Linked DNA regions of Homo sapiens. The protein of the gene in region 1 purifies or fractionates together with the protein of each later gene. This does not show direct contact. Each region holds a gene or a part of one and is shown on either strand. Other genes may lie near its edges.

The links.
Region 2: the proteins of KLHL4 (region 1) and ARIH1 purify together in Homo sapiens (affinity purification with mass spectrometry, with the first as the bait; one large-scale study listed by BioGRID). This does not show direct contact.
Region 3: the proteins of KLHL4 (region 1) and RPS6KA3 purify together in Homo sapiens (affinity purification with mass spectrometry, with the first as the bait; one large-scale study listed by BioGRID). This does not show direct contact.
Region 4: the proteins of KLHL4 (region 1) and MIA3 purify together in Homo sapiens (affinity purification with mass spectrometry, with the first as the bait; one large-scale study listed by BioGRID). This does not show direct contact.

What each region holds. Positions count from the first base shown.
Region 1 is NC_000023.11:87,667,781-87,670,550, reverse strand, and holds the end of KLHL4 (kelch-like protein 4), read right to left. Parts: 3' UTR 1,223-2,770; coding exon of another isoform or gene 1,157-1,222; 3' UTR 501-1,156; downstream 1-500.
Region 2 is NC_000015.10:72,575,330-72,578,850, forward strand, and holds part of ARIH1 (E3 ubiquitin-protein ligase ARIH1), read left to right. Parts: intron 1-3,521. UniProt on the Homo sapiens protein: E3 ubiquitin-protein ligase, which catalyzes ubiquitination of target proteins together with ubiquitin-conjugating enzyme E2 UBE2L3.
Region 3 is NC_000023.11:20,165,889-20,169,409, reverse strand, and holds part of RPS6KA3 (ribosomal protein S6 kinase alpha-3), read left to right. Parts: coding exon 1-8; intron 9-1,662; coding exon 1,663-1,821; intron 1,822-3,521. UniProt on the Homo sapiens protein: Serine/threonine-protein kinase that acts downstream of ERK (MAPK1/ERK2 and MAPK3/ERK1) signaling and mediates mitogenic and stress-induced activation of the transcription factors CREB1, ETV1/ER81 and NR4A1/NUR77, regulates translation through RPS6 and EIF4B phosphorylation, and mediates cellular proliferation, survival, and differentiation by modulating mTOR signaling and repressing pro-apoptotic function of BAD and DAPK1.
Region 4 is NC_000001.11:222,628,097-222,631,617, forward strand, and holds part of MIA3 (transport and Golgi organization protein 1 homolog isoform 1 precursor), read left to right. Parts: coding exon 1-2,293; intron 2,294-3,521.

The DNA.
Region 1 (2,770 bases):
AAGGAAGGTCTCCATGGCCTTAGATGAAATGTAAATTTGGCAAACTCAGGTGGCTTTTGTGTAGGCGAGGCCATTTAATTCTGATTCTCCATCACTTAAAATATAATCCAAATTTTATAGGCTTGGATTTGGTACAAATTTCATAAACTTAGTTTTAATTAGTGTATATCACTAGGGTCCTAAACACAGTAGATCTTTAATAGATGTTTATGTCAAGGGGCTAATATCTGAAAAATACTAATGTGCTTTTATTTTTTAATATTTACCCATTTATAACCTTCCCCATATTTAGCTATATGTACCCATTTCCCTCATTGTTTACATGTGCTCTGTGTGTGTGTGTGTGTGTGTGTTTCTGTGTGTGTGTGTTAAGGGAGGGGATTAGGATTATGAGAGAAAAAAAGATAGTGTCAATATTAAACACTTAGCACCATGAGCAGGACTTTTTCCTAGTCTGTAGCAGGCCATAATCTTAAAAAGCAAGCATTGTCAAGAGAGAAAAAGCTTTAACACTTTTATTAATATTACTATAATTCATAAATCATATATATTATGGCATACAAAATGATATTTTGGCATATGTATACAGTGTGGGATGATTAAATCAAGCTAATTAAACATATTATCACCTTACCCATAATTCACTGTGGTGAGATATTTGAAGTTTTAAAAACATTTTTAAAACTTTCCTTTGAAATATGGAGATCCATGCTTGAAAATTAGGTAGTTCATGTGATATCTTCCACAGACAAGAGGGGAGATGCTCCTTCCATCATTTAGGTTGGGACTTAGTATCTCCAGCAGTGTGGACAGGATGTAAAGAAAATTCATTACGAAGAGAAATAGCAACTGAAAAATCTCTTCTACCTCAGGTGATGTGATTGGGAGAAAGTAAACATAGAATGATGACAGTTGAGGACATTTGTGTTTCATGACCTTTTTTTTTTTTTCTTTACCTAGACTAAGATCTCAAGGTAGGAGTCTTGTTAGAGAACTTAAAATAAAATCCAGAGTCACAGGGTTTTTTTTTCTATATTGCATTTGGAACTCCAGAAGGAAACTGTCTTTCAGTGTTCCCTCCATATCAAAAAGGGGCAACAGCCACACCTGAGTCAGATTGATAAATGTCATTGCTGTGTGGAGAAAGGATCTGAATTTAGTGCCCCAGAGTCTCTTTCAGCTTCTGTGTGGTATAGAAGTTTTGTAGAAGTTCTTGCATGCTCTGTGGAAATACAGGAAGGTGACAGACAGTGTTAGAGAATCATCATGATGCATGCTGAGAGTTGCAGAGTAGGGAATCGTGAACACGGTCATAGTGATTATAGAAAAAAATCAAGAAGCAACATTGTCTTTCAGATCTGAGTACAGTAAATGTGTGAGCCCTTACACTCTTGTAAGAATATATAAATAACATCCTTTCCTATACACATTTGTTTAAACTAGCCCTGATAAGTTATCTCTGCTAAAGCATGTCAGAAAGGGCCTGCTCTTACTCCTCCTTTTCCCAATTAAGTTTGACTGAGACAAGCACAGTTATGTTTGAGTGCCCTGGGCCTCTGCAGGTCTCTATTCTGATGGCTCATATCTGCTCAGATTTTGGCAGCTCATCTAGGGCATTGTCTTAGTTCATTTTCTGAGGCTTAAAACAGAACCTGGGTAATTTATAAAGAAAAAGAATTAATTTCTTACAGTTAGGCAGGCTGAGAAGTCTGAGGTTGAGAGGCCATATCTGGGATGGCCTTCTTGTTGGTAAGAGCTGTCAGGTAAGTCCCAAGGTAACACATAGCATCACATGACCAGGGGACATACGGTGCACCCTGAGCATGCTAGCTTAGGTCACTCTTCCTTCCTTTTCATATAAAGTCACCAGTCCCCCACTCATAATAATCCATTAATCCATGAATGGATTAATCCATTCAGGAGGGCACAGACCTCATGGCCCAATCACCTCTTAAGGGCCCTGCCTCTCAGTACTGCTACATTAGGAGTTAAGTTTCAACATGAGTTTTCGAGGGAAAAAAATATTCAAACCACAGCAGCCATAGTGGCCTGAACACCATTTTTAAATGCAGCTATGAAGGGGTAGCCCCGGGAAACATACATGTCTCTTCTATGAGTCAATACTTAATCAAGTCCAGCTATGCCATTGAGAAGAGAGTATTCAACTTTCACTTTCCTCTTGTCCATGCATGACTCTAGACACAGTCTGCCTATTGGTAGCACCTCGTTGTTACTGGAAGATTGGCAAGCTAGGCTGCAAAAGGTCCTTTGATCTTTTCCACTGGTTGACACCCACATTTAACTTAACAGGCCAAGCTGTGCATTGGCGATAAAGGTTTAGGTAACTCTACTTCTACACTGATTTCAATAAGGTGTGAATTCAAAAGACCTAACAGGGCTGTATGTGTGTTTCACAGCCTCTCTATGTCTCTATCTTCACCTCTAGAACTGCAGAAATCTATAGCTCTCTCTTTAGAATTAGAGACAATGGCAGGTGTAAGAAGAAATAAAGGAGTGGAATTTTATTTTTGTGTTTAAGTATTTTAGTGATATAGGAAATGTAAAATCAAAAAGTCCATTCAGGTTGTACTTGATATATTCTAAAGCCACACTATAGTGAGAGGAAATAAAGTTTATTTAAATTCAGTTTGTCAAAGTACAAATATCTTTGTACAACTTACGTTCTTCTTTCTTAAAACTTAAAAGCTAGTAGTATATTTTATAAGCATTTCTCCAGATTTTGATTTCACAATCCACAATAAAAAGACTG
Region 2 (3,521 bases), on another chromosome or scaffold:
GCACTTTGGGATGCTGAGGCGAGAGGATTGAGTGCGGGAGTTTGAGATCAGACTGGGCAACAACTGAGACCCTGTCTCTACAAAAAATTTATTAAAAATTAGCCAGGTATGGTAGTGCACGCTGGCTGAGGTGGGAGGATCACTTGAGCCTGGGAAGACTTCAGTGAGCCATGGTTGTGCCACTGCACTCTAGCTCAAGCAACAGAGCAAGACCCTGTCTCCAAAAAAAAAAAAAAAAAAAAAAAAAGTCTTATTAGCAGTGATGGTATGGGTGTTCTTTTTTCATGTTGAATTTTAGTGAGAAGCAGTTTCAGAATTCTTAGATTAAGTCAAGTCCCATAACATCATACATGTCAATATGGTAAGGGAGGGTTTTCATTTCATTTGGGGAACTTGACAGGCTTGGAAATATTAGTACTTTAGGGGAAGATAAAATGCCAAGCAGATTTTCCACATATTTTCAGATTGGCATAATTTTCCTGTTCATAAGCATTGGTTTGATACTTACCTGACTCTTGAAATAACATGGCTGTGGTTTTGTTGTTTTTTCATTGAGATGAGGGTCTCGCAGTGGCATGATCATAGCTCACTGTAGCCTTGAACTCCTGGGCCCAAGTGGTCCTCCTGCCTCAACCTCTGCATTAGCTGGAACTAGAGGCAGCTTGAGGTGTGCACCACCGCGCCCAACTTGTGTTGGTTTTTTGAAGTGTTTCGTTGTATAATGCTGGATCATGTGGTTAGCTAATTATGTGGCTCAGAATTAGTATTTCTAAGCAAGGGACCAACCATAGGGCCAAGTAGTATCTGTTATGTAGGCTTTAAAACATGGGGAGAGAAAGAGGAGGTAAGGATAAAGGAAAAGAACATACGTGTGTTAGGAACCCCTTTGATAGGGGCCGGGCGCGGTGGCTCATGCCTGTAATCCCAGCACTTTGGGAGGCCGAGGCGGGCGGATCACAAGGTCAGGAGATGGAGACCATCCTGGCTAACACAGTGAAACCCCATCTCTACTAAAAATACAAAAAAATTAGCTGGGCGTGGTGGCGGGCACCTGTAGTCCCACCTACTCCAGAGGCTGAGGCAGGAGAATGGCATGAACCCGGGAGGTGGAGCTTGTGGTGAGCCGAGATTGTGCCACTGCACTCCAGCCTGGGTGACAGAGCAAGACTCTGTCTCAAAAAAAAAAAAAAAAAAAAAAAAACCCTTTGATAGTGGTTGCATTTAGTAAGCATTTATTAATGGTTTTCTGCAAATCAGGTATTGGAAATACTTTATCTTTTTAAAAGTCCATTCCCTCTAGAGATTTATGGTATAATGGTAGAGGCCTCATATGAATAATTATATATTATAATGTAATAATACAAAACAAATCTAAACTAGATACATTGTTGCTTTGATAACAATATACTTTACATATCTCTAAAGACAGACTCTCTTTACATAACTGTAATACCATTACAGTTGACTCTTGAACAATTCAGGGGTTAGGGACACTAACCCGCCCTACCTCCGCAATGGAAAATCCACATACCACTTTTGATTTTCCCAAAACTTACCTGTTTTAATAGCCTACTGATGACCAGAAGCCTTACCGATAACATAGTCAATTAACACATATTTTGTATGTTACATGTTTTATTATACTGTGTGCTTTTTTTTTTTTCTTTTTTTGAGACGGAGTTTGCTCTTGTTACTCAGGCTGGAGTGCCAGTGGCAGGTCTCAGCTCCCTGCAACCTCCACCTCCCGAATTCAAGCGATTCTCCTGCCTCAGCCTCCCAAGTAGTTGGGATTACAGACATGCGCCACCATGCCTGGCTAATTTTTTTGTATTTTTAGTAGAGACGGGATTTCATCATGTTGGTCAGGCTGGTCTTGAACTCCTGACCTCAGGTGATCCACCCACCTCAGCCTCCCATAATGCTGGGATTACAGGCGTGAGCCACTCACTGTGCCTGGCATATACTGTGTTCTTAACAATGAAGTATGCTAGGAAAAAAGTTATTTTAAAAAATTGTGAAGAAGAGAAAATGTGTTTACTTTTTATTAAGTAGAAGTGGATCAGCCGGGCCCAGTGGCTCACGCCTGTAATCTCAGCACTTTGGGAAGCTGAGGTGGGCAGATTGCCTGAGGTTGGGAGTTTGAGACCAGCCTGGCCAACATGGTGAAACCCTATCTCTACTAAAAATACAAAAATTAGCTGGGCGTGGTAGCAGGCGCCTGTAATCCGAGCTACTTGGGAAGATAAGGCAGGAGAATCACTTGAACCCTGGAGGTGGAGGTCGTGGAGAGCCGAGATCGCACCATTGCACTCTAGCCTGTGCGACAGAGTGAGACTCCATCTCAAAACAAAAAACAAACAAACAAAAAAACGGATCATCATAAAGGTCTTCAAGTTGAGTAGGCTGAGGAGGAAAGAAAATACAGGAGGGCTTGGTTTTGCTATATCTCAGGTGGCAGAGGTAGAGGAAGTCGAATGGGATTCAGGAGATGCAGGCACACTTGGTGTAACTTTACAGGAAAACCTTACGAACCGTTTTGCATTTTCATTTCTCTAAAAATGTTTCTGTATAGTAACAATCCTCTTTCCATTTGCTTTAGTTTCAGTGCTGGTATAATAGAAGGGTCCATTCATAAAGGAAGTCCAAAGCAGTCTTAAGTAATCAGAACCCTTCTGCCAAATTGTCTAATGTCAATTTATTTTCTGGCACTGCTTCTTTAGTGTCTTCTTCCTCATCATCTGGCACTGGTTTGGAAGCAGCTCATCTCCATCAAGTGGTCTTTTAATTCCTCTGGTGTGGTGTCTGTTAGCTAACCCTTCACCTTCCACGTTTTCTTTGCCATATCCACAGTCTCTTTCGTGATTTCCTTGATGGGCTCTGTTGTAGATACTGCGAAGTCACGCGCAACATCTGGACACAGTTTTCTCTACCAGGAGTTTATTGTTTCAGTCTTGATGATGCCATGGTTTTTTCTATAACAACGATGACATCTTCAGTGGTGCTCTCCTTCCAGACTTCCATGATGTTCTGTGGGGGTTCTCTTCGATAGCATTGACAGTCCCTTCCAGAGTACCGTGTGCATCTTTACGTTTGTTTACATTTCTCTCAATGTGAATGGTACCATATACGGTCTGTAAGAGTTTGTGTGCATAAGTTTTGATAAATCTCAACTTTTTATTAATAGATTTATGTATATTTTATCGTAGTAAATCATAAGATAGGCTACATATGTCTTATGCATTCATGACAACTCTTTTTCTTAATTTTGGTTTGTCCGCAAGTGTTTTCAAATTGTTGGCAAACCTCCAAAAAATATTTCAATATATTTATTGAAAAAAATCCACATATAAAGTAGACTTACAGTTTAATCCTGTGTTGTTCAAGGGTCAACTGTATATGTTTTAAAGCAATACTCTGTTGGTATCAACTATCTATTGTTCAAATATCCCCAATTATCTTAAATTTTGCTTTTTTTTGTTTTTTGGTGTTTTGTTTTTTTTTTTCAGAGGTAGAGTCTCGTT
Region 3 (3,521 bases), about 68 Mb from region 1:
TAAAGGATGTAAGTAGATTCTTTAATATGGATCATTTGAATCAGTTGTCTAACTCACATTGAAAGTAGTGTATTTTCAAAAATCATGTGGTAGACAAAGAACTCATCATAGGCTGGGCACAGTGGCCCACGCCTGTAATCCCAGCAGTTTGGGAGGCCAAGGCAGGAGGATCACTTGAGGCCAGGAGTTCAAGACCAGCCAGGTCAACACAGTGAGATCTCCATCTCTACAAAAAAAAATTTTTTTTTAATTAGCCAGGCCGAGCACAGTGGCTCACACCTGTAATCCCAGTACTTTGGGAGGCTGAGGCAGGAGGATTGCTTGAGCCCAGGAGTTCAAGACCAGCCTGGGCAACATAGGGAGACCCTGTCTCTAAAGAATATTTAAAAATTAGCCTGACATGGTGGCTCATGCCTATAGTCGCAGCTACTCTGGAGGCTGAGGTGGGAGGATTGCTTCAGCCCGGCAGGTCAAGACCTCAGTGAGCAGTTATCGCACCACTGCACTCCAGCCAGCGCAGCAGAGCAAGACCCTGTCTCAAAAACAAAAACAAAACAAAACAAAATTCAACATGGTAAGTTTAAAAAGTAGATTTGAAAACAATTTATATGTGTATATGGCATAATTTCATTTATCAATAAAGATATGTTTGTACAGTTATTTTTTTCTACTTTTGCTTTAAGAAGAAAAGTACTTACGATATTATTGCTTTTAATATCTGCACTTACTTGAACACTTACCTAAATGTTCAGTGTTAATATTACTATTAGTTCATATTCAATATTGACTAGTCTCACTCTCCAGACTACCCCAAAGTATCTTCCACATTACTAGAAAAGAGATCTAACACTCATAACTACCCATTTAACTTCCCTGCCTACAGTCTAAAGTCCCCAGCCGCTTAAGACCCTGCCTTCCTCTGTAGTTTTCAGACTTCTCACACACCCTTTCTCATACACCTGATGCTCTGTGTTCTAGTATGTAAATTTCTTGCGCATGCCTCATTTTCCATGCTGTTATGTCTGAATTTATAGTTCCCTCAGTTGCCAACACCATCTATTTTCTTTACCTGGCTAACTACCACACATATAAGATTTTGCTAAGGCACTGCTTCTTCCAGGAAGCCTGCCCTGCCCATTGCCACCCCCAGGACAAGTAAAGTATCTTTCCCTGGACTGTCATGATAACCCTGTTGCCTATGTCTCTCTTGACTTTTATTATAACAAAGTGTTGGCAAACAGTGTGAACTCCCCAGGTAGTGTTAAGTCTTCTCTTGCTAATGATGCTCAATAGGCCCAAAGGCCTTATCTGGGGGTTGTCAAAACTCAAATTTCCTCAGATTATCCCTGCTCATGGAGACACAGCAAAAGCTCGTCTCTACAAAAAATGCAAAAATTAGCCAGGTGTGGTGGCATGCGCCTATAGTCCCAGCTACTTGAGAGGCTGAAGTGGGAGGATCGCTGGAGCCCAGGAAGTGGATATTGCAGTGAGCCAAGATTGTGCCAGTGCACTCCTGGGCGACAGAGTCTGTCTCAAAATAAATAAATAAATAAAATTTGTCTTGAATATGAAGTGAGTTTAATTTTTCCTTTATATTTTAAACTTCGTTTTGGGCACATATAGTTTCAAATAATATTTACATTTTGATGTTGAAATTTATAGGTATATGATGATGGAAAGTATGTGTATGTAGTAACAGAACTTATGAAAGGAGGTGAATTGCTGGATAAAATTCTTAGACAAAAATTTTTCTCTGAACGAGAGGCCAGTGCTGTCCTGTTCACTATAACTAAAACCGTTGAATATCTTCACGCACAAGGGGTAAGTCTTTTTACCACTCTATATGTACATACACACACTTTTTTCCTTTATGTTTGAGCTAGAATTAGATAGAAATTACTTTATGCCTGAAATGGAAAATAACTGCTATTAGCTGAATTATCCTACTGACCTTCCTCTATATAAACTTTTATTATTGAGATTGAAGTGTACCTTTGATATCCTAGCTTGTTTATGTTAAACTCTTGTGCTTCCAAGAAAAAGTAAGTGATCTCTTCCGACCTGGAAAACATAGCATTGTTTCTGCTAGGTCACTCTGTACTCATGAAAACCAGGCCCACTTCAGGTTAGAAGCAGAACCAAGGAATCCTGGTTTGTATTCATGTATAAAAGGAAATCCTTAAAACAATGAGGCCAAGGAGTCACATGCTTCGGCTGGTGGATATGCTCTTCGTTCTTCTTGTATGCAGATTTTTAGTAAACAGCAAAAGAAAATTGTATTTCTAGGCTGGGCACGGTAGCTTATGCCTGTAATCCCAGCATTTTGGGAGGCCGAGGCAGGCAGATCACTTGAGGTCAGGAGTTCGAGAAAATCGTATTTTTAAAACAAGGCGGCCGGGTGCAGTGACTCACGCCTGTAATCCCAGCACTTTGGGAGGCCAAGGTGGGTGGATCACCTGAGGTCAGGAGTTTGAGACCAGCCTGGCCAACATGGCGAAACCCTGTCTCTGTTAAAAGTACAAAAATTAGCCGGGCGTCATGGCTCATGCCTGTAATCCCAGCTACTCAGAAGGCTGAGGCAGGAGAATTGCTTGAACCCGAGAGGCGGAGGTTGCAGTGAGTTGAAATTGCACCACTGCACTCCAGCCTGGGCAACAGAGTGAGACTCCATCTCAAAAAAAAAAAAAAAAAAAAAAGAAGGGAAGTCTGGGAGGAAAGGAGAAAATGAGGGGAGGGAGGGAGGAAAGGAGAACAGCAGAGGAGTGAAGCAGAGGAGCAGAAAGCAAGGGGAAAATAAACAATTTTTTAAAAATTTTTTAGTTGACAAATTATGTATATTCATGGTATACAACATGATGTTTTGATACATGCATATATAAAAGATTACTTCTTAAGGAGTTCAGTTTCAATACATTCTTTTTGTTTTGTCTTTGCCCCTGAAAGCCAAGTAGAATGTGTTAATTCTGGAGCTTCCTGACTTCTAACTTATCAAGATTTGCCTAGTATTGTAACTTGAAATTAGTAGAACTCAGTAGTCACTGAGGAACTTATGACCTTGCAGTCATCAAAGTCTTCTGTGTTCTTTTCCCAATGCCTCATCAGTAATTCGTTATTAAAATAGTCTGGAGAAGTGATGTCCTGGATGTGAGGAACTAAATCTAATTTGATTGATTGGAACACAGACTCAGAATTTGGTGACAGAAGGCACACTTAAGTCTAAAAAGGAATGTCAGAGAAGCTTATGATAAAAAAGTACAGTAGTCCCCCACTAATCTGCAAGTTTGCTTTCTGTGGTTTCAGTTACCACAGTCAACCATTGTCAAAAATATTACAGTATTTTGAGAGACCACATTCATATAACTTTTATTACAGTATATTGTTACAAGTGTTCTAATTTATTATTAGTCATTGTTAATCTCTTACTGTGCCTAATTTATAAATTAAACTATATCATAGGTATATATATCTAGGAAAAAATATAGAGAGACTTCGGTATTATCCTCAATTTCAGGAATCCACTG
Region 4 (3,521 bases), on another chromosome or scaffold:
ACCAGACTCGTTACTTCATTAGAAGATGATTTTGATGAGGAATTGGATACTGAGTATTATGCAGTTGGAAAGGAAGATGAGGAGAACCAAGAAGACTTTGATGAGTTGCCATTACTTACCTTTACAGATGGGGAAGATATGAAAACTCCAGCAAAGTCTGGCGTTGAGAAATATCCAACAGATAAAGAGCAGAATTCAAATGAAGAGGACAAGGTTCAGCTAACTGTGCCCCCTGGCATCAAAAATGATGATAAAAATATACTAACAACCTGGGGGGACACTATCTTCTCTATTGTCACAGGAGGTGAAGAAACAAGAGATACGATGGATTTAGAGAGCTCTAGTTCAGAGGAAGAAAAAGAAGATGATGATGATGCATTAGTCCCAGATAGCAAACAGGGGAAACCACAGTCAGCAACAGATTATAGTGACCCTGACAATGTAGATGATGGTCTTTTTATTGTAGACATTCCTAAAACAAATAATGACAAAGAAGTAAACGCAGAACATCACATTAAAGGAAAAGGGAGGGGAGTTCAGGAATCCAAGAGGGGCCTGGTACAAGATAAGACAGAATTAGAGGATGAAAATCAAGAAGGCATGACTGTGCACAGTTCTGTTCACAGCAATAACCTCAACTCTATGCCAGCTGCTGAAAAGGGTAAAGACACATTAAAATCAGCTTATGATGATACAGAAAATGACCTAAAAGGAGCAGCTATTCATATCTCAAAAGGAATGCTCCACGAAGAAAAGCCTGGAGAGCAGATTTTGGAAGGTGGCTCAGAGAGTGAATCTGCACAGAAAGCTGCAGGGAATCAAATGAATGACAGAAAGATTCAACAGGAATCCCTGGGTAGTGCACCACTCATGGGAGATGACCACCCTAACGCATCCAGAGACAGTGTGGAGGGAGACGCTTTGGTAAATGGGGCCAAACTGCACACGCTTTCAGTGGAGCATCAACGTGAGGAATTGAAAGAGGAATTAGTTCTTAAAACTCAAAACCAACCTAGATTCTCCTCTCCAGATGAGATTGATTTGCCCAGAGAACTGGAAGACGAGGTTCCCATTCTGGGAAGAAATCTTCCCTGGCAACAAGAAAGAGATGTGGCTGCCACAGCCAGTAAGCAAATGAGTGAGAAGATAAGGCTCTCTGAGGGAGAAGCCAAAGAGGACTCCTTGGATGAAGAGTTTTTTCATCACAAGGCAATGCAGGGCACAGAGGTAGGACAGACAGACCAAACTGACAGCACAGGAGGACCAGCTTTCCTTTCTAAAGTAGAAGAGGATGATTATCCCTCTGAAGAACTACTAGAGGATGAAAACGCTATAAATGCAAAACGGTCTAAAGAAAAAAACCCTGGGAATCAGGGCAGGCAGTTTGATGTTAATCTGCAAGTCCCTGACAGAGCAGTTTTAGGGACCATTCATCCAGATCCAGAAATTGAAGAAAGCAAGCAAGAAACTAGTATGATTTTGGATAGCGAAAAAACAAGTGAGACTGCTGCCAAAGGGGTCAACACAGGAGGCAGGGAACCAAATACAATGGTGGAAAAAGAACGCCCTCTGGCAGATAAGAAAGCACAGAGACCATTTGAACGAAGTGACTTTTCTGACAGCATAAAAATTCAGACTCCAGAATTAGGTGAAGTGTTTCAGAATAAAGATTCTGATTATCTGAAGAACGACAACCCTGAGGAACATCTGAAGACCTCAGGGCTTGCAGGGGAGCCTGAGGGAGAACTCTCAAAAGAGGACCATGAGAACACAGAGAAGTACATGGGCACAGAAAGCCAGGGGTCTGCTGCTGCAGAACCTGAAGATGACTCGTTCCACTGGACTCCACATACAAGTGTAGAGCCAGGGCATAGTGACAAGAGGGAGGACTTACTTATCATAAGCAGCTTCTTTAAAGAACAACAGTCTTTGCAGCGGTTCCAGAAGTACTTTAATGTCCATGAGCTGGAAGCCTTGCTACAAGAAATGTCATCAAAACTGAAGTCAGCGCAGCAGGAGAGCCTGCCCTATAATATGGAAAAAGTCCTAGATAAGGTCTTCCGTGCTTCTGAGTCACAAATTCTGAGCATAGCAGAAAAAATGCTTGATACTCGTGTGGCTGAAAATAGAGATCTGGGAATGAACGAAAATAACATATTTGAAGAGGCTGCAGTGCTTGATGACATTCAAGACCTCATCTATTTTGTCAGGTACAAGCACTCCACAGCAGAGGAGACAGCCACACTGGTGATGGCACCACCTCTAGAGGAAGGCTTGGGTGGAGCAATGGAAGGTGAGATGCCTATGGCCTTGTAGAACAGGGCTGGAGAAGCAGGTGGGTGGGTCGCTGAGGTGCCTCCTATCTTGTGAAGCTCTGTTCAGTTTCCAATGTGCCTAAAGGAGAGGGACAACACAGGGAGGTCCACATGTTCCTTCCTGCCATCTTTCTTTTAGGCTGGAGCATGGAGAAGAATTTCTTGCCGTTTCCCTTAGAATAGTTGAGACTGGTTAGCATTTTCAAAAGGAAACTTTGTAAAAAGCTAAAGAGAAAGATATAAACCAGAAAGTAATATACAAAATACAAATGTCATGTAAAATTATGAAAGGGTTTTATTGAACACAATTTTTCAGTCGTCAGATAACTGCTCTGTAACCATGGATTGACTGGTATAACTTTTAGATCAATGCCTTGGCTAAATTCCTACGTTCTCCCCAATTTTATCTTTTGTGGATGGCTTGTTCTTCCTGTTTCTTGGGAGCACTTACTCCAGTTAAACCCTCCTGGGCCGTAAGGTTCTTGCATGCAGATTAATCAAGATTGGGACAGGGATGCCTTCGAATGCAGTGCTTGATGCGTGGAAGCCATTCAGTTGAATTAACCCCGAGCCAATATCCTGACATAAGCATTCTGATTCCTAGTTCCTTGTTCTATTCTCTGCATCCAGGCTTTTCTCTTTCTTTTCTTTTCTTTTCTTTCCCTTTGCCCACCTGCCCTTCCTTCCTTCCTTCCTCTTTCTTTTTTTCTTTTCTTTTTTTTTTTCTTAAGACAGGCTCTCACCCTGTCACCCAGGCTGGAGTACAGTGGCATGATCATAACTCATTGCAGCCTCCAACTCCTAGGCCCAAGCGAACCTCCCATCTCAGCCTCCTAAGTGGCTAGGACTACAGGCATGCATCACTGTGCCCAAATAATTTTTATTTATTGTAGAGACAGGGTCTTGGTATGTTGCCCAGGTTGATCTTGAACTCTTGGCCTCAAGTGACCCTCCTACTTTGGCCTCCCAAAGTACTGGGATTACAGGTGTGAGCTACCGCACCTGGTATATCCAGGCTTTTCAGACAGATGTATCTGAATTGAGAGTACCAAGGGGACAGGAAGCCACAGGAAAACGTATTACTCCAGAGTGCTAATTTTTCCTAAGAAATGGGGGAGGAGAACTTTTTTGCATTTAATTAAAACATATATTTTGGATAAGAAGGCAATATTCAGATGAATTTTCAGGGTAAAATATGAGGCTACA